5 separate regions of the Homo sapiens genome follow, and all the other regions are linked to region 3. Evidence: fine-mapped expression QTL. A gene starts in region 3. Each other region holds a variant in brackets. All regions are shown on one strand. Distances are from middle to middle.

Region 1 (6,273 bases), 52 kb after region 3:
TAAGGTGGAAGGAAGGGATCCAGTTTCAGTTTTTACATATGACTAGCCAGTTTTCCACATATGACTAGCCAGTTTTCCCAGCACCATTTATTAAATAGAGAATTCTTTCCCCATTTCTTGTTTTTGTCAGGTTTGTCAAAGATCAGAAGGTTGTAGATGTGTGGTATTGTTTCTGAGGGCTCTTTTCTGTTCCATTGGTCTACATCTCTGTTTTGGTAACAGTACCATGCTGTTTTGGTTACTGTAGCCTTGTAGTATAGTTTGAAGTCAGGTAGCGTGATGCTTCCAGCTTTGTTCTTTTGGCTTAGGATTGTCTTGGCAATGCAGGCTCTTTTTTGGTTCCATATGAACTTTAAAGTAGTTTTTTCCAATTCTGTGAAGAAAGTCATTGGTAGCTTGATGGGGATGGCATTGAATCTATAAATTACCTTGGGCAGTATGGCCATTTTCACGCTATTGATTCTTCCTACCCATGAGCATGGAATGTTCTTCCATTTGTTTGTGTCCTCTTTTATTTCATTGAGCAGTGGTTTGTAGTTCTCCTTGAAGAGGTCCTTCACATCCCTTGTAAGTTGGATTCCTAGGTATTTTACTCTCTTTGTAGCAATTGTGAATGGGAGTTCATTCATGATTTGGCTCTTTGTTTGTCTGTTATTGGTGTATAAGAATGCTTGTGATTTTTGCACATTGATTTGATATCCTGAGACTTTGCTGAAGTTGCTTATCAGCTTAAGGAGATTTTGGGCTAAGATGATGGGGTTTTCTAAATATACAATCATGTGATCTGCAAACAGGGACAATTTGACTTCCTCTTTTCTTAATTGAATACCCTTCATTTCTTTCTCTTGCCTGATTGCCCTGGCCAGAACTTCCAACACTATGTTGAATAGGAGTGGTGAGAGAGGGCATCCCTGTCTTGTGCCAGTTTTCAAAAGGAATGCTTCCAGTTTTTGCCCATTCAGTATGATATTGGCTGTGGGTTTGTCATAAATAGCTCTTATTATTTTGAGATAACGTCCCATCAATACCTAATTTATTGAGAGTTTTTAGCATGATGGGCTGTTGAATTTTGTCGAAGGCCTTTTCTGCATCTATTGAGATAATCATGTGTTGTTTGTCGATGGTTCCGTTTATGTGATGGATTACGTTTATTGATTTGCATATGTTGAACCAGCCTTGCATCCCAAGGATGAAGCTGAGTTGATCGTGGTGGATAGCTTTTTGATGTGCTGCTGGATTTGGTTTGCCAGTATTTTATTGAGGATTTTCACGTCGATGTTCATCAGGGATATTGGTCTAAAATTCTCTTTTTTTGTTGCATCTGTGCCAGGCTTTGGTATCAGAACGATGCTGGCCTCATAAAATGAGTTAGGATTCCCTGTTTTTCTATTGATTGGAATAGTTTCAGAAGGAATGGTACCAGCTCCTCTCTGTACCTCTGGTAGAATTCGGCTGTGAATCCATCTGGTCCTGGACTTTTTTTGGTTGGTAGGCTATTAATTATTGCCTCAATTTCAGAGCCTGTTATTGATCTATTCAAAAATTCAATTTCTTCCGGAGCATGTGTGTGTCCAGGAATTTATCCATTTCTTCTAGATTTTCTAGTTTATTTGAGTAGAGGTGTTTATAGTATTCTCTGATGGTAGTTTGTATTCCTGTGGGATTGTTGGTGATATCCCCTTTATCATTTTTTATTGTGTCTATTTGATTCTTCTCTCTTTTCTACTTTATTAGTCTTGCTAGCGGTCTATCAGTTTTGTTGACCTTTTCAAAAAACAAGTTCCTGGATTCATTGATTTTTTGAGGGTTTTTTGTGTCTCTATCTCCTTTAGTTCTGCTCTGATCTTAGTTATTTCTTACCTTCTGCTAGCTTTTGAATTTGTTTGGCCTTGCTTCTCTAGTTCTTTTAATTGTGATGTTAGGGTGTCAATTTTAGATCTTGCCTGCTTTCTCTTGTGGGCATTTAGTGCTATAAATTTCCCTGTACACACTGCTTTAAATGTGTCCCAGAGATTCTGGTACATTGTGTTTTTTTTCTCATTGGTTTCAAAGAACATCTTTATTTCTGCCTTCATTTTGTTGTTTACCCAGTAGTCATTCAGGAGCAGGTTGTTCAGTTTCCATGTAGTTGTGTGGTTTTAAGTGAGTTTCTTAATCCTGAGTTCTAATTTGATTGCACTGTGGTCTGAAAGACAGTTTGTTGTGATTTCTGTTCTTTTACATTTGCTGAGGAGTGCTTTACTTCCAACTATGTGGTCAATTTTGGAATAAGTGCGATGTGGTGCTGAGAAGAATGTCTATTCTGTTGATTTGGGGTGGAGAGTTCTGTAGATGTCTATTAGGTCCACTTGGTGCAGAGCTGAGTTCAAGTCCTGGATATCCTTGTTAATCTTATGTCTCGTTGATCTGTCTAATATTAACAGTGGGGTGTTAAAGTCTCCCATTATTATTGTGTGGGAATCTAAGTCTCTTTGTAGGTCACTCAGGACTTGCTTTATGAATCTGGGTGCTCCTGTATTGGGTGCATATATATTTAGGATAGTTAGCTCTTCTTGTTGAATTGATCCCTTTACTGTTATGTAATGGCCTTCTTTGTCTCTTCTGATCTTTGTTGGTTTAAAGTCTGTTTTATCAGAGACTAGGATTGCAACCCCTGCTTTTTTTTGCTTTCCATTTGCTTGGTAGATCTTCCTCCATCCCTCTATTTGAGCCTGTCTCTGCATGTGAGATGGGTGTCCTGAATACAGCACACTGATGGGTCTTGACTCTTTATCCAATTTGCCAGTCTGTGTCTTTTAATTGGAACATTTAGCCCATTTACATTTAAGGTTAATATTTTTATGTGTGAATTTGATCCTGTCATTATGATGTTAGCTGGTTATTTTGCTTGTTAGTTGATGCAGTTTCTTCCTAGCATCAATGGTCTTTACAATTTGGCTGTTTTTGCAGTGTCTGGTACCAGTTGTTCCTTTCCATGTTTAGTGCTCTTTTAGGGCAGGCCTGGTGATGACAAAATCTCTCAGCATTTGCTTGTCTGTAAAGGGTTTTATTTCTTCTTCACTTATGAAGCTTAGTTTGGCTGGATATGAAATTCTGGGTTGAAAATTCTTTTCTTTAGGAATGTTGGATATTGGCCCCCACTCTCATCTGGCTTGTGGAGTTTCTGCTGAGAGATCTGCTGTTAGTCTGTTGGACTTCCTTTTGTGGGTAACCTGACCTTTCTCTCTGGCTGCCCTTAACATTTTTTTCCTTCATTTCAATCTTGGTGAATCTGACAATTATGTGTCTTGGGGTTGCTCTTCTCGAGGAGTATCTTTGTGGTGTTCTCTGTATTTCCCGAATTTCAGTGTTGGCCTGCCTTGCTAGATTGGGGAAGTTCTCCTGGATAATATCCTGAAGAGTGTTTTCCAACTTGGTTCCATTCTCCCCATCACTTTCAGGTACACCAATCAAATGTAGATTTGGTCTTTTCACATAGTCCCATATTTCTTGGAGGCTTTGTTCATTTCTTTTTACTTTTTTTCTCTAAACTTCTCTTCTCACTTTATCTCATTAATTTGATCTTCAATCACTGATACACTTTCTTCCTCT[T/A]GATTGAATCGGCTGTTGAAGATTGTGCATGCATCACGTAGTTCTCATGCCATGGTTTTCAGCTCCATCAGGTCATTTAAGGTGTTCTCTACACTGTTTATTCTAGTTAGCCATTCATCTAATCTTTTTTCAAGGTTTTTAGCTTCCTTGTGATGGGTTTGAACATCCTCCTTTAGCTCAGAGAAGTTTGTTATTACTGACCTTGTGAAGTCTACTTCTGTCAGGTCATCAAAGTCATTCTCCATCCAGCTTTGTTTCATTGCTGGTCCTCACCAGCTGTCGTCCTTTGGAGGAGAAGAGGCGCTCTGGTTTTTAGAATTTTCAACTTTTCTGCTCTGGTTTCTCTCCATCTTTGTGGTTTTATCTACCTTTGGTTTTTGATGTTGGCAGCCTACAGATGGGGTTTTGGTGTGGATGTGCTTTTTGTTGATGTTGATGCTATTCTTTTCTGTTTGTTAGTTTTCCTTCTAATAGTCAGGTCCCTCAGCTGCAGGTCTGTTGGAGTTTGCTGGAGGTCCACTCCAGACCCTATTTGCCTGGGTATCACCAGCAGAGGCTGCAGAACAGCAAATATTGCTGCCTGATCCTTCCTCTGGAAGTTTCATCCCAGAGGGGCATCCGCCTGTATGAGGTGTTAGTTGGCCCCTACTGGGAAGTGTCTCCCAGTTAGGCTACATGGGGGTCAGGGACCCACTCGAGGAGGCAGTCTTTCCATTCTCAGAGCTCATGCACCATGCCGGGAGAACCACTGCTCTGTTAAGAGCTGTCAGACAGGGATGTTTAAGTCTGCAGAAGTTTCTGCTGCCTTTTGTTCAGCTATGCCCTGCCCCCAGAGGTGGAATCTACAGAGGCAACAGACCTTGCTGAACTGTGGTGGGCTCTGCCCACTTTGAGCTTCCCCAGCTGCTTTGTTTACCTACTCAAGCCTCAGCAATGGCGGACACCTCCCTCTCCTGCCAGGTTGCTGCCTCGCAGGTTGACCTCAGATTGCTGCGCTAGCAGTGAGCAAGGCTCCGTGGGTGTGGGACCTGCTGAGCCACATGCGGGATATAATCTCCTGGTGTGCTGTTTGCTAAGACCATTGGAAAAGCACAGTATTTGGGAGAGAGTGTCCTGATTTTCCAGGTACAGTCTGTCACGGCTTCCCTTGGCTAGGAAAGGGAAATCCCGTGACCCCTTGCACTTCCTGGATGAGGCAATGACCCACCCTGCTTCAGCTTGCCCTCTGTGGGCTGCACCCACTGTCCAACCAGTCCTATTGAGATGAACCAGGTACCTCAGTTGGAAATGCAGAAATCACCCGTCTTCTGCATCAATCACACTGGGAACTGCAGACCGGTGCTGTTCCTATTCGGCCATCTTGGAAGAGAATCCTTTAGAAGTTTCTTTGTGTTGATTTTCAACCTTGTCCTGGAGCTCATTGAGCTTCCTTGCAATCCATACTCTGAATTCTTTATCTGTCATTTCCGAGTTTCCATTTTGATTACAGACCATTGCTGTAGATCCAGTGTGATCATTTGGTGGTGTCACTACATTCAGATTTTTTGTGCTGGTTCCTTCTCATCTGGAGACCTTGGCACTTCTAATATTTGTAATTATTTTAGTGTGGGTAGGAGTTTTTCTTTTTATTTCCCTATAATAGTATTATTTTTTCTTTCCCTTTTCCCCCCTCCCTAGGGGGTGTAACTGTAGAGAATGCTGGGTAGGGTCTTTTGGCTTTCCTTCTATAGCCCTCTGCACTTCTTTCAGCAAGTTTTTTTTTTTTTTAATTTATAAAGAACAGAAATATATTTCTCACAGTTCTGGAGGATGGGAAATCTAAGATCAATGATCTGGCACTTGTTCGACTAGGGCTTTCTTGCTGTGTTCTCACATACAGAAAGCAAGCTAGCAGGATGCTCCCTGAAGGCTCTTTTATAAGGGCCTTAATCCCAGTCCTGAGAGAGAACCCCTTGTGGCCCAGTGACCTCTTAAAGGCCCCACCTCTTGATGCTATTGTATTGGCAACACTTGAATTTGAGGGGACACATTCAAGTCATGGCAAACTGAACATTTCCCTTTTGCCAGACAGCACCACGTTCTTTGTCAGTAGGTGGTGGTAGAGGGACACTGCAGAATAAAGGGGCTTCTCTTGCTTCTCCTCTTGCTTCTAAGAGGATGCTGTGACAGTTAATTTTAGGTGTCAATGTGGCTGGGCCACAGGGTGCCCAACTATTTGGTCATATATTTTTTTAAAATTTTAGATATTTAACTTTTGCTCTGACTTTCCAGTTATAAGGTCAAACTTTATTCTGGGTGTTTCTGTGAGGGTGTTTTTACATGAGATTGACATTTAAATCAGTGAACTTTGAATAACGCAGACTGCCCTCCTCGATGTTAGTGGGCTTGATCCAGTCAGTTGAAGGGCTGAAGAGAAAAAAGACTGTCCTCTTCCAAGAAAAAGAGAATCCTCCAACAGATACCTTTGGACTGGACCCGCACCATCAGCTTTCCTGGGTTGCCAGCCTCTTGCCTCACACTCCAGGTTTTGGACTTGTTAGACTTAATAATAATCACAGAAGCCAATCCCTTTAAGGTAGTTTCTCTGGAGAACCTTGACAAACACAAACATCTACTGAGAGTTCCTGTCCAAGTTTTGCTCACACCCTAGCAGGAGGCTCCTGGCTTACCAGTCCTGAGGGT
Region 2 (6,273 bases), 68 kb after region 3:
TAAATTAACATGTAAGTATAAGCTGACATTACTATTGCAAATCTGTTATTGACTATATATATTGACATTATTGCAAATGTAGATACTATTTGTACACAGGTGCATGAACATGTAATATGTAATAAAACGTGTATATATACAGATAGAATAACATTAATATTTTATGTATGTGGAATTATTCTTATATGTATATTCATACACAATATATTTATGTGGATGTGAACGTGTATATGTTTATTACAGTACTCAGGAGACAATCAAGTTATTGGCTTTTAAAACATACTCTATTAAATGAGAATTTAGACAAAAAAAGAAACTTTTTGATACATCCTGATATCAGGACATTGTACATACTCAAATTCATAACCTCAAATGTTGATAATAATAGTAATTATTTGCTACATGTGAATTTGTGGTCTTTAGCCTACAAAGGATGATCACAAGCACTATTCTATTTCTTCTCACCAAAACACTGTGAGGGTATCTGATTTGTATATTGGGAAGTATTGACTTTGATGTTTGGCAGACTAGGGCTTCTACTCTGGATCCTGTCTACTTTCTAGCTTGGCTACCTTGAGCACATTATAATAGTTACATGATTGAGTGTCTTTTCTGTTCATATTCTTTTACATATTGTTTCGAATTGTTCATAGGGACTCCTAAAGGGTAGATATTGTTCCCATTTATGGATGAGAACACTTGTTATTGGAGTAGTTATGTGACTTGGATATTTACTTATTTATTTATTTAGAGATGGAGTCTTGCTCTGTTGCCCAGGCTGGAGTGCAGTGAAGTGATACTGGCTCACTGCAACCTCTGCCTCCTGATTTCAAGAGATTCTTGTGCCTCAGCCTCCTGAGTAGATGGAATTACAGGTGCACACCACCACACCTGGCTAATCTTTGTATTTTTAGTAGAGACGGGGTTTCACCATGTTGGCCAGGCTTGTCTCAAATTCCCGGCCTCAAGTGATCTGCCTGCCTCAGCCTCCCAAAGTTTTGGAATTACAGGTGTGAGCCACTGTACCTGGCCACTTGAATCGTTTTTAAATGTATTGAGTTATTTTGTGACCCAAAATGTGATCTACCTCCGTAAGTATTCCATGTACTCTTGGAAAAAAATGTGTATTATGCTTATATAGAGTGGTGGATTCTATAAATGTTAATTTGGTCAAGTTAGTTGATAGTATTGATCAAGTCTTCAGTTTCCTTACCAATCTTCTGTCAATTTGTTTGATTAATTACTGAGTTAGTGATATTGAAATCTTACACCATAATTGTAAATTTTTCTACGTCTCTTTTTGGTTTTATCAGTTTTTACTTCAGGTATTTTGAAATTCTATTATTAGGTACATAAACATTCAGAATTGTTATGTTTGCTTGATGAATTGATCTCTTATTATTATGAAATGAACATTATAATCTGTGGTAATATTGTGTCTTCTGAAGTCCATTTCGTCTGAATTTAATATAGCCAAATGCATCTTTCTTTTTCAAGATTTTTTTTGTTATTATTTTACTTTAAGCTCTGGGATACATGTGCAGAACATGCAGGTTTGTTACATGGGTATACATATGCCATGGTGGTTTGCTGCACCCATCAACTCGTCATCTACATTAGGTATTTCTACTAATGCTGTCCCTCCCCTAGCCCCCCACCTCCTGACAGGCCCCGGTGTGTGATACTCCCCTCCCTGTGTCCGTGTGTTCTCATTGTTCAGCTCCCACTTATGAGTGAGAACATGTGGTGTTTTGTTTTCTGTTCCTGTGTTAGTTTGCTGAGAATGATGGTTTCCAGCTTCACCCATGTCCCTGCAAAGGACATGAACTCATCCTTTTTTATGGCTGCATAGTATTTCCATGGTGTATAAGTGCCACATTTTCTTTATCCAGTCTATCGTTGATGGGCATTTGGGTTGATTCCAAGTCTTTGCTATTGTGAATAGTGCTGCAGTAAACATATGTGTGCATGTGTCTTTATCACAGAATGATTTATAATCCTTTGGTTATATACCCAGTAATGGGACTGCTGGGTCAAATGGTATTTCTGGTTCTAGATCCTTGAGGAAACTCCACACTGCCTTCCACAATGGTTGAACTAATTTATACTCCCACCAACAGTGTAAAAGCGTTACAATTTCTCCACATCCTCTCCAGCATCTGTTGTTTCCTGACTTTTTAATAATCACCGTTCTACCTGGTGTGAGATGGTAGTATCTCATTGTGGTTTTGATTTGCATTTCTCTAATGACTAGTGATGAGATGATGAGCTTTTTTCCATATGTTTGTTGGCCGCATAAATGTCTTCTTTTGAGAAGTGTCTGTTCATATACTTTGCCCAATTTTGATGGGGTTGTTTGTTTTTTTCTTGTAAATTTGTTTAAATTCCTTGTAGATTCTGTATATTAGCCCTTTGTCAGATGGATAGATTGCAAAAATTTTCTCCCATTTGGTAGGTTGCCTGTTTACTTTGTTGATAGTTTCTTTTGCTGTGCAAAAGCTCTTTAGTTTAATTAGATCCTATTTGTCAATTTTGGCTTTTTTTTGCCATCGCTTTTTGTGTTTTAGTCATGAAGTCTTTGCCCATGCCTATGTCTTGAATAGTATTGACTATGTTTTCTTCTAGGATTTTTATGGTTTTAGGTCTTACATTTAAGTTTTGAATCTATCTTGAGTGAATTTTTGTATAAGGTGTAAGGGAGGAGTCCAGTTTCAGTTTTCTGCATATGGCTAGCCAGTTTCCCCAACACCATTTATTAAATAGAGGATTCTTTCCCTATTGCTTGTTTTTGTCAGGTTTGTCAATGATCAGATTGTTGCAGATGTGTGCCGTTATTTCTGAGGCCTCTGTTCTGTTCCACTGGTATATATATGTATATTTTGGTACCAGTACTATACTGTTTTGGTTACTGTAGCCTTGTAGTGTAGTTTGAAGTCAGGTAGCATGATGCCTCCAGCTTTGTTCTTTTTGCTTAGGATTGTTTTTTCTATATGGTCTCTTTTTTGGTTCCATATGAAATTTAAAGTAGTTTTTTTCTAATTCTGTGAGGAAAGTCAATGGTAGCTTGAGGGGCATAGCATCAAATCTATAAATCACTTTGGGCAGTGTGGCCATTTTCACGATATTAATTCTTCCTATCATGAGCATGGAATGTTTTTCCATTTGTTTGTGTTGTGTCTTATTTCCTTGAGTAGTGGTTCGTAGTTCTCCTTGAAGAGTTCCTTCACATCCCTTGTAAGCTGGTATTACCACTGATCCCACAGAAATACAAACCTCTACACAAATAAACTAGAAAATCTAGAAGAAATGAATAAATTTCTAGACACATACACCCTCCCAAGACTAAACCAGGAAGAAGTCCAATCCCTGAATAGACCAATAACAAGTTCTGAAATTGAGGCAGTAATTAATAGCCTACCAATAAAAAAAAAAAAAAAAAAAAAA[G/AG]CCCAGGACCAGATGGAGTCACAGCCAAATTCTACCAGAGGTAAAAGAGAAGCTGGTACCATTCCTTCTGAAACTATTCCAAACAATAGAAAAAGAGGGGCTCCTCCTTAACTCATTTTATGAGGCCAGCATCATTCTGATGCCAAAACCTGGCAGAGACACAACAACAACAAAAAATTTCAGGCCAATATCCCTGAAGAACATCAATGCAAAAATCCTTAATAAAATACTGGCAAACCGAATCCAGCAGCACATCAAAAAGCTTATCCACCATGATCAAGTCAGCTTCATCCCTGGGATGCAAGCCTGCTTCAACATATGCAAATCAATAAATGTAATCCATCATATGAACAGAACCAATGGCAAAAACTACATGATTATGTCAATAGATGCAGAAAAGGCCTTCAATAAAATTCAACACACCTTTATGCTAAAAACTCTCAATAAACTTGGTGTTGATGGAATGTATCTCAGAATAATAAGAGCTATTTATGGCCAACCCACAGCCGATGTCATAATGAATAGGCAAAACCTGGAAGCACTCCCTTGAAAACTGGCACAAGACAAGGATGCCCTCTCTCACCACTCCTATTCAACATAGTATTGGAAGTTGTGACCAGGGCAATCAGGCAAGAGAAAGAAATAAAGGGTATTTAAATAGGAAGAGAGGAAGTCAAGTTGTCTCTGTTTGCAGATGACATGATTGTATATTTAGAAAACCCCATTGTCTCAGCCCCAAATCTCCTTAAGCTGATAAGCCACTTCAGCAAAGTATCAGGATACAAAATCAGTGTGCAAAAATCACAAGCATTCCTATACACCACTAATAGACAAACAGAGAGCCAAATCATGAGTGAACTCCCATTCACAATTGCTACAAAGAGAATAAAATACCAAATGCATCTTTCTTTTGATTGGTATTAATACATTATATCTTTTCTTACCTTTTTATTTTTAATCTCTTTGTGTCTTCATATTTAAAGTACATTTCTTGTAGAAAGCATATGATTGTGTCTTGCTTTTTCCCACATTCTGAAAATCTCTGCCTTTTAATTTGGATATTTAGACCACTTACATTTAATGGGATTCTTGATATGGCATGTTTAAGTCTATCATCTTGCCACTTTTTAAAAAAATTGCCCATATGTTGTTTCCTTTTTCTTGCCTTCTTTCGGAATGAGTAATTTTTTAAACAAATAATTCCTTTTTATCTTCTTTGTTGGCTTATTTGCTATAACTTTGTATTGTTATTTTAGAAGTTGCTTTAGGTTCAAGTAATATTATACTACTTCATGTACAGTATAAAAAACTTACAATGGCATTATCTATTTTTCTCCTTACAACCTTATGATATTTTTGACATATATTCTACTTGTACATGTATTATAAAACCTGTACTACATTGTTATTATTTTTGCTTAAACAGATTAGTTTGTTTAAAGATATTTAAATAATAAAAAATCTTATATGTTTACTCATGCAGTTACCACTTCCAGGGGTATTTTTTCAACTGCGTAGATCCACATTTCCGTCTGATATCATATTCCTTCTGCCTAAATGATGATGTCTTTTTGTATTTCTTGTAATGCAGCTTTGCTGGTGAATAAATTTGTTTAGTTTTCATATATCTGTAAAAGTTTTTCTTTTGACTTTATTTTAGTTTGATTTTGAAACTCATTTAAGGTAGGCATAGAATTCTAGGTTGATAGTTTTTCTTTCACTACTTGTACTCAGGGTTTTGAGATTCTTGTTCTGTGGGTTTACTGATTTCATCAAATTTGGACATTTTAGAGAAATATTTCTCCAAATATTTTTTTTTCTGTCTCCTATCACTCTCATTTAGGGACTCTAATTACCCTGTTTGATGCTGGATATTTTTGTGTTCCTATATTACAGAGTCTTGTTCTGGGACACTGTTAAGTTACTTGGAAACAGATTTTTTGGAGTGTTGCTTTTATGTCTTTTTTATAGGCTGGGCCAGAACAGTGTTTAGTCTAGGACTGATTATTTTCCACTACTGAGTTAAGAAGACCCTCTGAGTATTCTGTCTACTGCCCAGAAAATCATAAGGCTTTCACATCTAGGTTGGGGAAGAGACACTGTTTATGACCCTGTGTCTTAATATTTATATTATTTTAGTGGTTTTTCTGAGCTTTACAATATACACACCTAAATGTTCACATTCTATTTAGAGTTAATATGTTATCACTTCAGGTAAAGCATAGACGCCTTACCATCATTCAGGTCATTTTAACCTTACCCTTGGTATTATAATTGACATGTATATTATGTCTATTACATTGGAGACCTCCCAGACAATGTTAGAATTTTTGCTTTCAATCGTTGTACATATTTTTAAGAATTTAAGAGAAGAAAAATCATCTCTATATTTATCAAGTTATTTACATTTATGCCACTCTTCTTTTAATTCCAAAGTTTTATTCCTTTTGATATAATTCCTCTTCAGCCTGAAGAACTTCCTTTGGCAATTTTTTTCAAGCAGGTCTGCTGGTGACAAATCCTCTTAGCCATCTTTCATCTGAGAATGTCTTCATTTTAGAGGATTTTGGCCATGTAATTATAAAATCTGTGTGTTTATTTACTGAAGTTTTTAAATTTAAATCGACTTCTTATTTTGGAGGAAGAAATTTGGACAAAATGAAACTTGAAATCACTACCATAAATGGAAAATCAGTATCACTTGCTATAGATAGATGACAACAATAAGATACACAGTGAAAATAAAACATTATTAAAGTCTCTTTTGCCTCCCAGGCACTGGTCATGAAAGAAGCTCTCTCTTTGTAACAAGTTCCCTTTGAGAAACAC
Region 3 (6,273 bases):
ACTAAATTAAAATAGATTAAATAATTGAATCTAAGGACTCAAATTATGAAACTACTACAATAAAACATTGGGGAAACTCTCCAGGACATTGGAATGGGCAAACATTTCTTGAGTAATACCCCACAAGCACAGGCAGCCAAAACAAAAATGGACAAATGCAACCATATCAAAGTAAAAAGCTTCCTTCCAGCAAAGAACAATCAACAACAGAAGAAGAAAACCCAAAGAATGGGAGAAAATATTTGCAAACTAAGCATCTGACAAAGGATTTGTAAGCAGAACACACAAGGAGCTCAAACAATTATACAGGAAAAAATCTAATAAACTAATTAAAATATGGGCAAAAGTTCTAAATAGACATTTCTTGAAAGACGACATACAAATGGCAAACACGCATATGAAAATGTGCTCGACATTATTGATCATCAGAGAAACACCATTCAAAACTACAATGAGATATCATCTCACATCTGTTAAAATGGATTTTACCCAAAAGACAGGCAATAACAGGCTGGAGAGGATGTGGAGAAAAGGGGACCCTTGGACACTGTTTGTGGGAATGTAAATTAGTACAACTACTATGGAGAACAGTTTGGGCCTTCCTCAGAAAAACTGAAAATAGAACTATCGTATGATCCAGCAAACCCACTGTTAAGTATATACCTCCAAAATAGGAAATCAATATATTGAAGAGATATCTGCACTCCCATGTTTATTGCAGTTCCACTCACAATAGCCAAGATTTAGAAGCAATCCAAGTGTCCATCAACAAATGAATGAATAAAAAAAATGGTACGTATACATAATGGAGTACTATTCAGCCATAAAAAGAATGAGATCCTGTCATTTGCAACAACATAGATGGAACTGGAGGTCATTATGTTAAGTGAAATAAGCCAAGCACAGAAAGACAAACTTTACATGTTCTCTCTTATTTGTGAAAGCTAAAAATTAAAACAACTGAACTTACGGAGATAGAGAATAGAATGATGGTTACCAGACGCTAGGAAGGGTAGTGGGGTGGGTGTGCAGGGGTAGGGGGAATGGTTAATGAGTACAAAAAGATTTAGAAGGAATAAGATCTAATGTCTGATAGCACAATATATTATTGACTATAGTCAATAATAATTTAATTGTACATTTAAAAATAACTAAAAGAGTATAATATTTTAACACAAAAAATAAATATCTGAGATGATAGATACCTCATTTACCCTGGTGTGATTATTATACATTGTATGCCTGTATTAAAATATCCCATATATCCCATAAATAAATATATACATCTATGTACCCATAAAAATTAAAGACAAAACAAAACTAAAAACTACAGCTTTGCACAAAGGCTATTGCAACCTTAAACAAAAAATACTTCTGCCAGGACATCTGTCCACCAACTGCCTGTCTAACCTTGGACTGGTGCCACCTTTGTTACTGATCCTTGTAAGCAAAGAATTGATTCAAAACAATTGTGTAATCCTTCTTATTTTTCTTTTTAAAACTTTTTTCTTCCCTTACCTGTCTGAATACACACATAGTTTGTGATGGCACGCATATTCCCATTGCAATGCTCATTCTTGAATAAATATCACTGTCTTTTAGAGAGCTTTTCTTTATCTGTTATTTAGGTTGGTGTGACTCACATAACTGTTCCCAAACAGCTAAGTTACTTTTCTCCGACTTCTGGAATACCCAATAGCAGGTTGGGGCCTATAGAATGTTGGTACACAGAAGGGTTATGTATGTAATTATAATTTTATATTTCAAGTCTATAGTTTTTACAATGGAAATTATAGAACGTGAAAGTTAATTTGGAACATCGTGTCTGGTGGTGATATGCAGAAAGCACAGTCTGAGCTTTGTCCCAAGTGAAGTGCATATCAGGTTCTTACAGTGGAAAGGGAAGGCATAAGACTTTTATGAATATTAAAAGAAAACAAAAGTAAAGTAAATGCATTGTGAAATACTGTCAGCTGAAAGGAATGTTGCTGTATTGAGTGTCAGTTCCAGGAAGTTACTCAAAACTTAAAGGTGTAGCAATCCTGTTTATACAGTTTCTGCTCCTATAGGCACTTTACTTCATCTTGAAACCCATAGGGAGTAATTGGAAAGGACATGGGTTTCAGGCAAGTTTTTAATTCCTTTCACAAATCCCCTTTTTATTTATATTTAAAATAAAGATTGTTGTAAGATTGGATTTAGATAATACATGCATGGTGCTTAACACAGAGGAGGCATTAAGCACAGTAATTCCTGTTGTACAGAGCCCCACATGTAGGCAGTTCAGAGGTGCTTCCCAGGGCCCTGGCGCTAGTGCCTGTCCCTCCTGCTGAAGTTGCCTTTCCTGGTGTCCAGTGATTGAATTCTAAATTCAGCACATATACCAGAGGAATACGAGCCAAAGAAGTTGTTCCAGCTAGAGTTGCTGGGAATCCATGAATCAAAGACTTGCTCAGCTAGTTCTGTATGTGAAAGGAAATGGGTGTGACTCTGAGGAAGCCTTTTTAATTCTGATTCAGGAGATACATAATTAGATGCCACTTGATTTTGTTCCACAGACTTTTTGCTGAGGACTTGAGAGCTAAGGTTCTGTGATCCAGAACTAGTTCCAGACTTACTCTTCTGGAAATGAACAGGGCCCTCCTGTGCTTATTTTTCCAGGATACTGCATTGGAAATTGAGTCAGGGACCCATTGGTGAGAAGAGAACAGTGAACAGAATCACATTGATCTGGTCCTGGAGTTTGTCTGACAATTTCTACTTGACCGCAGGAGGTCTGAAGATTGGAAGGGGCCCTACTCAATTGTGCTATTTTTCTCTCTTTTTTTTTTTTTTGAGACGGAGTTGCCCAGGCTGGAGTGCAGCGGCATGGTCTCAGCTCACTGCAACCTCTGCCTCCCGGGTTCAAGCAGTTCTCTGCCTCAGCCTCCCAAGTAGCTGGGATTACAGGTGCCTGCCACCATTCCTGGCTAATTTTTGTATTTTCAGTAGAGACAGGGTTTCACCATCTTGGCCTGGCTGATCTTGAACTCCTGACCTCGTGATCCACCGGCCTCAGCCTCCCAAAGTGCTGGGATTACAGACGTGAGCCACCGTGCCCGGCCAATCCTGCTATTTCTCTACAGGACAAAGGGATATATAATCTGGTAAGTCCTAATGGGATCAGGGGATGAAAAAGAAAAGATTACTATCATCAGCGACAAAAATGTTCTGGATGGGTTTGTGAAATGAGTCGAAGAGTTTTTTTTCCTACAGAATTTGACTGAAAAGGAAGTTAAGTTCGTCTTAATAATGGAGAATTCCTGATAGCATGTAAGGCTAAGGAATATATCTTCGATACATTATTGCACAGGTCCAGTCTTAAAGAAGCATCTTATATTCTCATTATTCTCTGCTTGTCCAGTGACCTCTTACATGGCCCATATCAGAGAATTGAAATGGTCACATCAGGAATTTTACATGAACTGTTGAAAATTCTGTCTCTCTTCATTATTGAACATATTTAGAAAGTTCAAAAACTGAATTCCATGTAGTTAGGAAGTCCTATTCCTATTTGTTATAATTGTAACAATACAATTATACTCTTAATTGTAACAATACAATTATACTGTTTTAGTTATTTCTAACTGTACAATTATTGACTATAGTCACCCTGTTGTGCTATCGAATACTAGATCTTATTCAGAAATACTAGATCTTATTCAGTCTAACTATTTTTTTTGTGCTCATTTACCATCCCCACCTCCCTCCCACCCCCTAATATCTTTCCCAGCCTCTGGTAACCATCATTTTACTCTATCTCCATAACTTCAATTGTCTTAATTTTTAGCTTTCATAAATAAGTGAGAACATTGTAAAGTTTGTCTTTCTGTGCCTGGCTTATTTCACTTAATGACCTCTAGTCCCCTCTATGTTGTTGCGAATGACAGGATCTCATTTTTTTTTGACACGGAGTTTTGCTCTTGTTGCCCAGGCTGGAGTGCAACAGTGCAATCTCGACTCACTGCAACCTCCGCCTCCTGGGTTCAAGTGATTCTCCTGCCTCAGCCTCCCAAGTAGCTGGGATTACAGTCATGCGCTACCATGCCTGGCTAATTTTGTATTTTTAGTAGAGCGGGGTTTCTCCATGTTGGTCAGGCTGGTCTTGAACTCCTGACCTCAGTTGATCCACCCGCCTCAGCCTCCCAAAGTGCTGGGATTACAGGCATGAGCCACCGCACCCAGCCAATCTCATTCTTTTTTATGGCTGAGTAGTACTCTGTTATGTATATGTACCACATTTTGTTTACCTGTTCATTTGTTGATGGACACTTGCATTGCTTCCCAATCTTGGCTATTGTGAACAGTGCTGCAACAAACATGGGAGTGAAGATATCTCTTCAATATACTGGTTTTCTTTCTTTTGGGTGTACACCCAGCAGAGAGGTTGCTGGGTTGTATGGCAGCTCTATTTTTAGCTTTTTGAGGAAGGTCCAAACTGTTCTCCATAGTGGCTGTACTAATTTACATTCCCACAAACAGGGTACAAGTTTCCCTTTTCTCTACCTTCTCTCCAGCATTTTTTATTACTTGTCTTTTAGATATAAGCCATTTTAACAGGGGTGAGATGATATCTCATTGTAGTTTTGATTTACATTTTTCTGATAACTAATAATGTTGAGGACCTTTTCATATGCCTTTTTTTCATTTGTATGTATTCCTCTGAGAAATGTTTATTCAACTCTTTTGCCCATATTTTAATCTGATTATTAGATTTTTTTCCTATAGAGTTGTGTGGGCTCCTTATATTTTCTGGTTATTATTCCCTTATCAGATGGGAAGTTTGCAAATATTTTCTCCCATTCTGTGGGTTCTCTTTTTCTGTTGTTGATCTTTTCCTTTGCTGGAGGGAAGCTTTGTAACTTGATGAGATCCAATTTGTCTATTTTTGCTTTGGTTGCCTGTGCTGGTGGTGTATTACTTAAGAAATTTTTGCCTAGACCAATGTCCTGGAGAGTTTCCCCAGTGTTTTCCTGTAGTAGTTTCACAGTTTGAGGCTTTACATTGAAGTCTATAATCTATTTTGATTTTATTTTTGTACATGATGAGAGAGAGTGGTCTAGTTTCAGTCTCCTGCATATGAATATCCAGGTTTCCCAGCACCATTTATTGAAGAGACTGTCCTTTCTCTAATGTATGTTCTTGGCACCTTGGTAAAAAATGAGCTCACTGTAGGTATATGGATTTGTTTCTGGGTTCTCGATTTTTTTCCTTTGGTCTGTGTGTCTGTTTTCATGCCAGTACCATGCTGTTTTGGTTACTGTAGCTCTGTAGTATAATTTGATGTCAGATAATATGATTCCTTGAGTTTTGCTCTTTTTGCTCAGGATAGATTTTGTTATTCTGGGTCTTTTGTGTTTCCATATAAATTTTAGGATTGTTTTTTCTCTTTCTGTGAAGAATGTCATTGATATTTTGATATAATTTGCATAGAATCTGAAGATTGCTTTGGATAGTATGGACATTTTAACAATATTGATTCTTCCAATCTATGAACATGGAATATCTTTCCATTTTTTGTGTCCTCTTCAGTTTCTTTCATCAATGTTTTATAGTTTTCATTGAAGAGATTTTTTACTTCTTCAGTTAAATTAATTCCTAAGAATTTAATTTTATTTGTAGCTCTTGTAAATGGAATTACTTTCTTGATTTCTTTTTCAGATTCTTCTCTGTTGGCATATAGAAGTGCTACTGATTTTTGGATGTTGATTTTGTATCCTGCAACTTTAATAAATTTATAACTTCTAATAGTTTTTTGTTGTTGGAATCTTCAGTTTGTTCCATATATAAGACCACATCATCCACAAACAAGGACAATTTGACTTCTTCCTTTCCAATTTGGATGCCCTTTATGTTTTTCTCTTTTCCCCCATTGAGTGAGTCTGTAATATATGGCTTTTTATTATGTTGAGTTATCTTCCTTCTATACCCAGTTTTTTGAGGGGTTTTATCATCAAGGGATATTGAGTTTTATCAAGTGCTTTTTCAGCATTAATGGAAATGATCACGTGGTTTTTGTCTTTCATTTTCTTGCTATAATGTATCACATTGATTGATTTGTGCGTGTTGTACCATCCTTGCATCCCTGGGATAAATCCCACTTGGTCATGATAAATGATATTTTTAATGTATTGTTGAATTTGGTTTCCTAGTATTTTGTCGAGGATGTTTCCATCAATATTCATCAGAAATATTGGCTTGTAGTTTTTTTTTTTTAAGTTTCTTTGTCTTGTT
Region 4 (6,273 bases), 62 kb after region 3:
TCCCTGGGATTTGGAATGTCCTTCACAATTCTGGTGGATTCCCATTTTCCTTCTTGAATTAAGCTCACAGAGTTGATCTTTATGCACTGTCTTGCTATTTCCAAGTGGCTGAGCACACACTAAAAGGCTTTAATCCACCATCTTGAAAAAAAATTGTCTTTTCTTATAAGGACATAAGTTATATGTCCTTATATGTCCATCGTAAGTCATGGATTTAGGGCTCACTCTAATCCAGCATGACTTCTTTTTAGCTAAATACATCTGCAAGGGCTCTATTTCCAAATAAGGGCACATTCTGAGGTTCTGGATGAATGTAAATTTCCAAGTAAACTTTGTTGACTTCAGGGGCCATGTGCGTAAATGAGTATGTGAATAGGTGTGTGTGTGTGTGTGTGTGTGTGTATGTGTATTGGGTGTGGTTGGGAAGTTGCTGGAAGACTGAGACATGGGGGTATCCCACTGTAGTCATTTAAAACACTATTCTGGTCATTTATATAAAAGCTGAGCTGCTGTAACTGGGCTTGCAGGCTACCAGTTTGGGATCCTTCCTGGGCCAGAGAAACACATTTGAATTTGTTCCAAGTGAAATTAAGTCATGGAGACTCTGACTGCTAGAGGCAGGGGGTGGGTGGGGGGAGGGACTGGATTGGAAGGGAGCCTGCATGGAGGTAAGTATGACATCCAGGAAGTTTCTCTAATCGTCCACGCACAGTATGGAATACTTTAAAAGACAGGAGCTTGAAAAGTAAGTGTATTGAATTCTAGTTTCAATAGATACCAGGAATACCTTGGAGGTAATTAAAACAAACTTTATTCGTATATCCGATCACATCTTTCTGGGTTATCTATAAAATGACAGTGACTAGTAATATTTTTCTAGTAAATTTCCAATATATGCCAGAAGGTGGCAGCATTGTCAAACAGCAGGATGCTTGGTGCTGCCTGCCACTCTCCTTTATATGCTTCCGGACCTACTGAATTCAAGGCCATCTCCTCTCTCTCACACCCTGCCCTCCTGCCTCCCCTCTTCCATGTCTTTCTCCTTGCTGGGTTAACATGGAGTGGGCTGGGAGAAGTGGGGCATCAACTGAGGGCCTAACACTGGTCTCCTTTTATATTAATATCAGAATAGAACCTCCTTCTTGAAACACTACATTGATTGTATTAAATGTCTCCCTTAAAAATCTCTGGGAGGTAAGACCAGAATGATGAGGAACTTAGAACAATTGTCAATATTTCAGAAAAGCCATGCCTTGGTAAAATGTCAACTGCTTATGCTAGGATCATTATGGATTCTGTGATAAATCTGATTGTCTCATGTTGAGCAAAGACCTGGGTTGGGAGTTTCAAATATTTTTCCATAAGCAGAGGAATATTCTCTTTAAATAAATTCAGCCAGGCAATTAAAGTCTTTCAAAACATTGGAATCTTGGTTAACACATAAGAAAGCAGGGGTGGTGAGAATCTTGGGATTCATTATCTTGGTGGATACAAAGTTCTTCTTCATTTAAAAGACTGTATTGATTAGGGCAGCAGGGCTAACCAGAAAAACCTGGGTTTGGAGTTGGGCCGATCCCTAACTTTGCAACCTCCGGTAAATAATTCAAAATCTTTGAGCTTCATTTTCCCCAGCGCATTGGATTGCTATTGACATAAATTAAATAGTGTATATAAAGAACCTAGTATAGTGCTAGCACATAGTTGATGCCCAACAAGCTTTTCTTGAATCAATGGAACTAACAGCAATAGTAATATTGAGTTTTAGAGGCCTGCTGTGTACCTGATATTGTGGTCGTGGCGAGACTCAAAAGCAACAAATGGAAAGAAGAGAAGAATATGATTTTCTGATCTGGGACATTTAAATTACTATTTTTAATTTTTAGATCTTGGGCAATCGAACACATTTGAAACTGCTCCCTGGCTCTGGAGGGGGGTGATAAGTAACTGAGATGCCAGGCCACATGCCACTTTTCTTACATACCTCACAGCATGTGGCAGAGTACACAATATCAACTCTGGAAATTGAGCTGTTAGAAAGAAAAGAACGCATGAGTGTGTCTTTGATTTGAATACAGGTAGTCAGTTCATTACCTGAGGTTCCAGGGAGGATAAATCTTGCCTTTAATCTATACCAGCTTTATTGTCAGGGAACAGGACAGGGACGTGCTGCCATTATTCACCATCACTTATTTGAGGACACTTATTTAGCCTGTACTCCAACAGATAGTCTAATAAGATACTTGATGGAGAGAGGGCATGTGTGAATGTGAATGTGGAAAATGGTGGCCCCATGGTCTTCCTCTTGAGCTTTCTCAGGCTAGCAGAGGACAGGAGCAATCACAACAGCTCAAGTTAGAAAGGGGCTGAAGGGTTAACTTGTTCAACTGGCCTTGTATTCTCAAATTCCTTTTATGATATTGCTTCAGGAGCACTTCAAGAAAACCTCCAAGTAGAGCTTGAGATCTTAGTCCCTCTGTGCCACCTTGCAATGCCTTTTTCTTCTCATGAGAAGCTGGGCTCCTCAAACTATGCCCTTTGTTAATTGTTATTTCTTTGAATACTTCAAGGCCCTGTATTCCTTCTATAGGTAGCTCCCTCCCACCCCAGTAAGGGAGGAGGATTATGTGAATTCTAATAACATTTTTTTCCATAATTTCCAATAGTTCCTTTTTGGATAATTATGCTATCTAACGCTTTTTCGCTAAAAAGTATCATTTTTTTGAAGAATTCTACTTCTGTTTCTGTGTGTGAACATATATAGTTTTCTATACAAAATTAGGAACCAGCTTGTCA[T/C]TAAGTGAGTTGTTACTCATTGTTTATTGGATGCATACAAGATACCAGGAATACAGGAGGGAATAAGACAGAAAACCTGCCTTCCAGGAGTTTGTATTTTAATAAGCTGTCATCTCAGACAAGGTGAAAGAAGATTGTATTATCTATTGCAAACAAATTGTTATTGTATTATCTATTGTGTTATCAATATAATCTATTGATAAACAAATAGATTGTATTATCTATTGCATAACAAATCACCCCCAAAACGTAATGGCTTAAAATAATAAACATTTAACTTATATTTTCCTCTTTCTGCTGGTTAAGAATTTGGGAATGGCCTACCTGGCTGGTTCTGGCTTAGGGTCTTACATGTGACTGCAGTTGGATGTTGGCAAGGGCTATAGTCACCTGAAAGCTTAATTGAGGCTGGAGGATCTGTTTTGAAGATGGCTGTCTTGCATGGCTGTAGGCAGGAGGCCTTAGTTCCTAACCATGTGGTCTCTCCATAGATGGCTTGAGTGCCCTCTCAACATGGAGGCTGGATTTCTCCAGAGTGAGTGATTGCCTCAGGATACAGCAAGCCTGGCTTTCCCCAGAGGCCATGATTGCTTTAGGATGCAAAAGCAAGCTTTTGTGCCCACATATTAATTAATTAGTTAATTCAACAAGTATTTATTGAACACTTACTATTTGCTAGAAGTTCCAGCATTAAAACATACCTCATTCTTTCCTCACTGAGAGTCTGGAAAAAGTAAAAATACTTTCAGCTTAGTTAAAAATTGGAAGGGCTAGAGTAGTAGTATTTTCTAGAGTAATTCATAGAGAAATAAACCATTTAACCAAGGTAGGGGTGCAATCCAATCACTTGCAAATAAACAGTGCAACTGCCCTTGATTCAAGTGTGCTCTGGGTCTCTTTTTATTTTGGAAATCCTTGTGCTTTTGTAATGGCTGCCTAGGAACCAGGGCTTTGCTCAGTTCATGCCAGGAGTGTTTGAGCAGAGTTGATCAATGGCATTAAAATTCACTAGGTTTCCCAAGCAGTAAAAAACTGCTAGATGCGGCCAGGCGCGGTGGCTCATGCCTGTAATCCCAGCACTTTTGGAGGCCGAGGCGGGTGGATCATGAGGTCAGGAGTTCGAGACCAATCTGACCAGGATGTTGAAACCCTGTCTCTACTAAAAATACAAAAAAAAAAAAAAAAAAAAGGAGAAGAAAAAATAGCCAGGCGTGGTGGCACATGCCTGTAATCCCAGCTACTCAGGAGGCTGAGGCATGAGAATAGCTTGAACCCGGGAGGCAGAGGTTGCAGTGAGCCGAGATCATGCCACTGCACTCCAGCTTGGGCGACAGAGAGAGACTCCATCTCAAAAAACAAAAACAGAAACAAAAAAACTGCTAGATGCTGAGCCCGGATGGCCACCTAGCAGTGCAGAGGGTGAGTGTCAAGGTCAGAAGACCCTGGGACGGGTAGAATTTTTCTAGGTTGGGAGGAAGGATGTGCATGCACGATGGTAGTTTTACTCATGGTTGGCTAACAGTGGCATGATTCACATCTAAGAATAGATAACATTTGTTTGAAAATGTTTTTGGTGTTTGCTTTCAGTGGTGCTTACACTGAAATGGGAATGGCACAGAAAAATAGAATGTGGTGAGTACCTCCCTCTTGTTTGTGAACATTCTACAGTTTTATGATTAGAATCTATCAATTTTAGAACTCTGGTGCGTAGATAATTCAAATCAGCTTAATTCTCAAAATTTTCGCTGGCCCCAAACAAAAACATATGACTAGAATCCTTTTTAAATATGTGTTTTGAAAAAAGTTAAATCCATCTGTATGCAAGACTATGCTATATGTAAGACTCTGGGTTAACATATGTTGAAGTGAGAAAGACATTGTTTGGCATTTACCATTCATTCATTCATTTATTCAATAAATATTAAAGGTACAATTTTCCAGGTGCTCTGTTAGGCATTGGGATATAGACATCAATAAAATAGACACATTCCTTGTCCTCATAGTATTGCATTCTAGTGGGGCTCATGACATATGAGAAAGAGAGAAAAACTCATGTAGCTCTCCTGGGGCAGTAGAAGGGCCAAAGGACTCCAGTAGGTGAAATAAGGATTTTGACAGCTACACAGGAAACTCAGAGCTGCCAAATTCTGCCTTTCTGGATGCTTTTCTATGAATCCCATCCATGACAGGTGAATTCTTATGTAACAGACTTGTTTATAAGCTACACTAACCCAAGGTGTCCAGTTGGGCTACCAGAAATAAAACTGTAACTCCTTCACTCACCCACATTGATTATTCATTAAAGCTTCACCTCTTTCAAAATCTCTCCCTCTCATTCAAGGAGGGCTCTGAAATTTTTCACACTTGCTTGCAAATTGCTATTCCCCGAGCACCGTAGGGCTTCTAGTGAGGAGTCATTGAACACTCATCAACAGTGGGAAGAAATAATCAAATGTATCTTTAAGATTAATTTGCAAACAGGGAATAGAGTGACTTAAACTGGAATGAAATTGGAATTAAGAAATACCATAAAGGAACATACTGGAGGGATATTTTATATGTTTTTAATTTTTTTGGCCAACTAGCTGTCCTTTCTCAGTTTAGGGTAGTAGCTCTTCAATTCTGCTTTTGGGGACCGTCTTTTCCACTCTAAGTCATTGTGATTTGGGTGGGGCTAATCTAACCCCCACTCTGAGGGTGGGGTTAGTGAACTAGGTCTGGCCAAGGAGAAAACATACAGCGCATTGTTCTGAAACCACAACGATCATTCATAGAGTGTTTGCTGGAACCATGAGTGAGGTATCCTCTTACCAATGGGGTTGCCAGTTGGTAGGATGTAAACCCAAAGTTCTGTTTGCTATTACATAAGAAAAAGTGACTGAGAGTGCTGTCAAGTCAGAGAGAACTAGAGCAGTAATATGGAGAGTGATATTTGGTAGTAATGAGGACCTGGATCCAGCCCTGTCTGAAGTCTAATTTTCAGTTACATTTTCCCACAAATTATTATCTTTATGAGAGGTAATTTGAGTTGGAATTTCTACCATTTCCACAAGAAGATCATGGGCTAATACACTAGAATATTGAGCAGTATCAAGTCTTTAACACTAAAAGTTGTAAAATAATTAAAATTGAGGATGCTTTTGAGAAGAATTACAAGAAGATGTGGTAGATGAAGGAGAGAAGAGTAAGGCAGTAGGATTTGCCAGCTTCAGCCAGATGATTAAGAAGATGGTGCTGTCTGTTCTTAACAGAAACAAAGAAGTCAGGAAAATGATTTGGAGTAAGGCAAAGGGGTGGGAGTGAAACCTACTGTAGACATGTTGGGTTGCTATTGATAGCTGGGCATCTAACCTAGTAGTTGAAAATTTGGGACTGAGTCAATGCAGAGAGACCATTTCTAAAGTGGGAGGCAATAATTAAAAATGATGTAGCCAGTAAAATCATGAAGGGAGAACATGGTGAATAGGTAAGAAAAATGGG
Region 5 (6,175 bases), 40 kb after region 3:
CCTGAGCTCCTCGCCCCACTCCAGAGTGAGGGTTTGGCCATCACCTATGGCCTGCTGGAGGAGTGTGGCCTTAGGATGGAGCTGGATAACCCCAGGTCAACCTGGGATGTAGAAGCAAAGATGCCCCTGTCTGCCCTCTATGGGACTCTCTCGTTGCTGCAGCAGCTGGCTGAGGCCTAAGCCCTCCCTGATGGGCAGTCAGTCCAGAGATGCTGGCCCTCGCCCAGTCTATGCTGTGAGTGTCCTTATGGGTGCAAGAGATAGGGCTGTGCCTCTCTGCGTTTCCAGGTGGAGTAGAGACAGTAATGGGTAGAGACTTTAGGAAATGTTTTGGGGTGGTGGAATACTCTATATATTGACAAGAGTTTATATATTGACAAGAGTTTATATATTTGTCAAAACTCCTCAAATAGTATGTTAAAGACGTAAGCGTTTCACTATGTATAAATTTTACTTCAAAATAATAAAAACAAATACTGACTCTAGTTAATGGTGTGCATTTTGAATTGTTTTGGGTGAAGTGTACCGATAACGGTAACTTACATTGAAATGCAACAAAAAGTAAGTTGACTTGATGATAGACAGATAAGTGACCAAGTAAATGTGATAAAGTATTAGTAATTGGGGAATATGGGTGAAGGATATAGAAGAGATTTTTTTTTTCCTGGAAACATTTTGTGAGTCCGAAATTGTTTCACATTAAATGTTAGCCCCCACGTGTGTGTGTGTGTGTATGTGCATATTCCTCAATTATTAATATTTTGTCACATTTTCTTGGTCATGTATCTGTCTCATTCTGTGCTCTCTGTGTCATTTGCTAATGCCACCTCGCCTCCTAAGCTGAAACCTGGGAGTCCACCTTGACTCCTCTCCTTAATCCCCAATCAACACAGTCCAGCCGACTCACCATAGCCCTCCTCTTCTCACCTGGACAGCTGGTCTCGTGCTCCCAGCTGGTTGTCCTGCCACCATCTTGTTCTCTTCAAATTTTCCTTGAATCCTGGAGGCTCATATCACAGCAGGCATGGGGAATAATTTAAAAATGCAACCTTTGTATGTCACTCCTCTGCCTAAAATCCTTTAGATGCTCCCTGTCATCTAGAATTATCAACCAAGATTTTAAATATGACGTCTCATCAGAATCACCTTGGCTGACATTTTCACATGACAATAATGAAGTGACTAATCACCACTTCACTCTAGTGTATTCCAGTAATCCCTATTGCTCACATCATGTCTTCACTTTTAAACAGTGTTTACTTTTTTTCTGCTAAAAAAGGCAAGAAAATGAGTTCTTCTCCCATCTTGCTCTTCTATCATCTCCTATCTCCAATTATTTTATTATTTGTAAATTGCCAAGGAGTGTAACCGTATCCCTCATGGCTGTTTAGTGTTAATTCTTTATCAAATTTTTTTTTTTTTTTGAGACAGAGTCTTGCTCTGTCACTCAGGCTGGAATGCAGTGGCACGATCTCGGCTCACTGCAACCTCCACCTCCCAGGTTCAAGTGATTCTTGTGCCTCATCTTCCTGAATAGCTGGGATTGCAGGCATGTACCACCACACTCGGCTAATTTTTGTATTTTTTTTTTTTTGTACAGACAGGGTTTCACCATGTTGGCCGGGATGGTCTTGAACTCCTGGCCTCAAGTGATCTGCCTGCTTCGGCCTCCCAAAGTGCTGGGATTACAAGTGTGAGCCACCGTTCCCAGTCTGTTTAAATTTATTCATTGGTAAGTATCAGTCATTTTGTTTTATTCCTTGAATGGCTGTGATCAAATAATTTTTTCAGTAGTGCTTCACTCCCCAAGTCCCTTCATATTTGAGAAACTTTGCCTCTTGCCTTTGTTCTTGAAGAATTCCTTGGAGAGAGATTATATTTTTAGGTAGCAGGTAACACCTTCTTGCCCTCAGTCTTTTGTAGCCATGCAAAGGTCTCCCGTTGACTTATTGATGCTTTGAAGAAGAACAAGGCTAGTCAAATTTTCCCAAACTCTTTGCATATACATCTAAATGTATGCCTGAAGAATTCTTTCTTCATCCTTGAAGTTAAGCACTTTAACCAGGCAATACCTGTGTCTCAGTCACTCTATGTCACTTTTCCTGGGAGCTACAGATTCATTTTTTCCTTTCAGGAAAATTTCCTCTTATAATAATTAAATATCTTTTATATTCTATTTGTTAGGTTCCCTACCTCACAGATACCAATTGTCCTTTAGGATTCTCCATACATTATCTTGTCTAATTCTTGCATCTTTGATTTTTTTTCGTCTGCATTCTCTGAGATCACGGCAGCTCTTTCCTCTATGTCTATAACTCAACTCTCAACTATAATTACTTTCCAATTCATCAGTTCAGATATTGTGTTGTGACCTTCAGTTCTTTTCCTTAGCTTTACAGTCTCTCTTTTCACATATTTCTGTTGTTGTATCTTTGCAGCTTTGAGGTTTTTACCTTATTAAAGTATTTCTCTTAGATTCTTCCATGGCATAAAACTGTTCTTTTTCTTGAGCTATGTTTTCTACCTGAATTGATTCCTCCACTCTCTTCTTTTCCTGTAGTGTGCTTGTATGGAATCTCTGTCACTTCCCACCTTCTCCCCTACCCCGCACCATGCTCATCCTCAGCATGGGCAGCTCTGTCCAAATTATATTTGCACAAAGACAATAGGGTAAATGAGTTTTTCTCAACTCTTTTATCAATTAAATGAGATGGTTTCTGTTCCTCTGCAAACTATGGATTGAAACCTGTGTTTTCCAGTGCTTAAGGTCATGGCATG[T/C]AGAACGGCAGGAGGGCTCACCTGGGGGTCTGGGCAGTCTTGGATGATTGCCCCGGCCTCTCTTTCACCTTCTACGATTTTAAACATTCTCTGTGGTGAATTATACACTATGAACTACTCACTCCTTCTTCAAATTTCCTCCTTTTGTGGCTGCAGAGAAGTAGTGCTCTTGTTTTCCCTATCACCTATTTCTTTTTATTCACTAAACATTATTTACTGAAGGCCTAGTATGTTCCAGTCATTATTCTATGCACCTGGAGTTCCACTTCCCATTGATTTTATATTTCAGTGGAAAAAAAGAGAAAATAAATAAATGTATTATATAGTATATTAGAAAGTAACAAGTGTCATTATTTATCCAAGTAGAGATATTAAGGTTGTAGCATATAATTCGGGAAGATGCCTGAGTTGAAGACAATCATTTGAGCACAGACACTATAGATGTATTAAAGTCATGAGGCTGGATAAGACCACTTAGGAAGCAGTGAAAAATCACTATGAGAGAGTAAGAAGTTCCAGAGACGAATCCCTAGGGAACCCTACTGTTTAGAGGTTGAGTGAAGAGGAGAGAACATCAAAGAAGATGAGGAAGACTGAATGTAAAGTAAGGAGAAAACTAGGAGAGAATGTGACACTTGGAAGCCATATGAAAAAGGTTTCAAAAACTTCATTAAGTGTGATATAAACAGTGCTAATAGATCAAATGGTGCTAATAGATTGAGAGGAGAACTGAGGACTGACTATTGAATTTTGCTACATTGAGGTCATTGATAACTTTGACAAAAGCAATTTTCATGGGCTTGTAGTAAGAAAACTTGATTGGAATTGATTTAAGAGGGAGTGGGAAGAAATCCGTGAGAGACAGTCAGGGTAGGCAACCCATTATCCCTTATAGGCTATGTTTATACTTATTCATCCTTAAACAGTGGACCTCTCTAGGTCTCATCTATTCTCTTTATACATTTGTGGCAGAGAAACGAGTGTCTACACAAAATATTGACTTCCAATATCCATTTTCCACTGCTACCAGTATGATAGCATTGTTAAATGAGCACATGGTCATTCAGAAGAAATAGTATGTTTTCTAGTTTCCTATACAGCTAGGTTGGCCATATGACAAGGGGGATGTAAGCAGCAGTTTTCTGAGTTAATATCCAGAAACCATTCTTAAAGACGGTTAGTGTGTGCCTTCCTTGTCTCTTACTAGTCCCTTTATTCATTTGTCTGCTGGAATACAGATGGGAGGGCAGAGCATTGAGTTGGAGGAAGACTAAGTTCCTGAGGACTTTGTGAAACACAGCTGCGCTGTCAGCCCTACACTGCCTACTTTTTACTTCTGCATGAATGAAAATCAATTTCTTGTTGAAATTACCATTATGTTGGATCTGCATTACTTCTCTCTCAACCCAATTCTAACTGTTATACATTTCCTGGGCAATATTGTTCACAGTTACTATTTCATTTGCTGTCTATTTTTCAAATAATTACCTAACCTCCATCTCTAGAGCAGACATCAACCTTCAGATATATTTCTTAAAATATTGAGTAGGCTTTCACTTTTAGCTTGATTAAATAGCTTTTAGTGAATCTGCTCTCTTTCTGCAAATAAATAAAAACCTCACCAAAATATACTAAACAACTGTTTTCAGATATTGTGTAATAGGAAGCACAGGCAAACAAACAGGAGTCCTAAGATTGCCCCAGGTTTCTGCCTGGAGCACATTCTGAACCACAGTTCAGAAAGAGAAACCTGTATAAGGTGGAGTGGTCTCTCTGAGTTAACAACACAGAGATAGGAGGTTGAGGAGGCCAAAGGAACTAACATTTTTAGGGCAGAGTTCTAGGAAAGAGGGAGTATTATCCAGTAACTTACATAGGGTACCTTGAGCCTTGGTCTAAATACTTAACTTGTGCATGTATAGCATAAGGCTTCAAAATAGTAGATTTAAAAGCTATCAGCTAGCTGTAGCCTGCAAAATTTCTAGAGCTTGACTGGTTCTGGCAGATATTTGGGTTTCAACCAGCTACCATGGACAGAACTCATTGAACACTCAGGACATTCATTAGAAGTCCCAGAAGGATCATGTCTTAGTAGAAGGGATAAGATGTAGAGTGGAGGCTGTATAAACCCCATTTTAACAGAGTATAAAAACAAGCCTCAAAAGAATCAAGTGGATCTGCATATAACTAGTTGCCAGCTAAAGCAAAATTTAACACTTCTTAAAGGAATACAACAAAATCCAGACACATTCAATAATGCAACATTCACAATTCCAGTATTACTACACATGGGAAGAGGCAGGTAAATGTGATCTATAACATATCAATTAGTTAATAAACAGAATACAGAAATGACAGATGGGATGACGATGGTGGGTTAGCTGATAAGGACTTTAAAACAGCTTATTATAAATATGCTCAAGTGTTTAAAAGAAAACAGAAGCCTATTGAGGAAAGAAAAGAATAAATTGAAAATAACGAAATGGAATGTCTAGAGCTAAAAAATATCATGTGTGAAATAAAAATACACTGTACAGGCTTGTTAGTAGAATAGGTAATGCAGATGGAATGATAAATGAAATTTAAGATATAGTAATAGAAGCTAAACTGAAGCACAAAAAACAAAAAGTGCAAAGACCTTCAAGGACCTGTGATACGATATAACACATGTAATTGGAGCCCCATAACTAAAGTGAGCAAAAACAATACTTAAAAGAAATACGTGCTGAAAATTTAATGAAAATGTAATAAAAACCAAACTCCACAGACCCAAATGGCTTGGTGAACTCTGAACAGGATAAGCACACAAGAACACTATCCCAAGATGTACAATAATCACATTCCTGAAAACCAATGATAAAGGGATAACTTTAAAAGCAGGCACAGAAAGACCCAATGCATTCAGAGAAAGAAAGGTTACAATTATTGATGATTATAATGCAAATCCATGATAAAAAGCAAAGCAAAATAAAGGAAAACTATCAATCTAGAATTGACAATAATTTTCAGCAAAATAACTTTCAAAAATGAAAGTAAACTTTTGATTCTGGCCAACATGGAGTAGCAGAGACTGGATTTTTCCTTCTGCTGGAAACAACTAAAAAACCCACAAAATATATGAAATAATGGTTTTCAAGTAATTGGACAGCAGTTAAAAAGGACAGTGAGCCTTGAGAAATGGAAGAAAACCAAGGTGAGCCCTCTGATTGCCCCAGATTACTGTCTTGAGAGAGTTTCCAGCATGGCACAGGAAGGAGGAACCCAAGAACAGCCTAAGAACCTCCTCGAGTTGAATGGATGAAGGTGAGAGTCTGGGGAAGCCAAGGCAGCTAGAGTTTTCAGGACAGAGTACAGAGAAGAAAGAGTTGTACAGAGAGAAAACCCTAGAGACCTGTAG

Alleles and levels. Positions count from the first base shown, and alleles are read on the strand shown. Sizes are in standard deviations (SD) of each study's normalised expression. Not every link is listed here.
As copies of C replace T in region 4, the expression in left ventricle of the gene that starts at base 2,533 in region 3 goes up (small effect, 0.39 SD a copy in GTEx).
As copies of C replace T in region 5, the expression in thyroid of the gene that starts at base 2,533 in region 3 goes up (large effect, 1.6 SD a copy in GTEx).

Evidence for each region. PIP is the estimated chance that this variant, and not a neighbour inherited with it, causes the effect.
Region 1: its variant is fine-mapped to the expression of GSDMC in skeletal muscle (GTEx, PIP above 0.99).
Region 2: its variant is fine-mapped to the expression of GSDMC in skeletal muscle (FUSION, PIP 0.95).
Region 4: its variant is fine-mapped to the expression of GSDMC in left ventricle (GTEx, PIP above 0.99).
Region 5: its variant is fine-mapped to the expression of GSDMC in thyroid (GTEx, PIP above 0.99).

The regions. Positions count from the first base shown.
Region 1 is chr8:129,731,375-129,737,647 of GRCh38, reverse strand. It overlaps a transcript of GSDMC not described here. Among named protein-coding and RNA genes, the nearest start is that of GSDMC, 52 kb to the left of the region's middle. The variant T/A (reference allele first, on the strand shown) is at 3,592.
Region 2 is chr8:129,714,422-129,720,694 of GRCh38, reverse strand. It overlaps a transcript of GSDMC not described here. Among named protein-coding and RNA genes, the nearest start is that of CCDC26, 37 kb to the right of the region's middle. The variant G/AG (reference allele first, on the strand shown) is at 3,445.
Region 3 is chr8:129,782,884-129,789,156 of GRCh38, reverse strand. GSDMC (gasdermin C) reads left to right here and starts at 2,533. Exons shown (of 14, transcript NM_031415.3): 1 at 2,533-3,146.
Region 4 is chr8:129,721,129-129,727,401 of GRCh38, reverse strand. It overlaps a transcript of GSDMC not described here. Among named protein-coding and RNA genes, the nearest start is that of CCDC26, 44 kb to the right of the region's middle. The variant T/C (reference allele first, on the strand shown) is at 2,794.
Region 5 is chr8:129,742,506-129,748,680 of GRCh38, reverse strand. GSDMC (gasdermin C) reads left to right here. Exons shown (of 14, transcript NM_031415.3): 14 at 1-485. The coding sequence ends at 180. Among named protein-coding and RNA genes, the nearest start is that of GSDMC, 41 kb to the left of the region's middle. The variant T/C (reference allele first, on the strand shown) is at 2,779.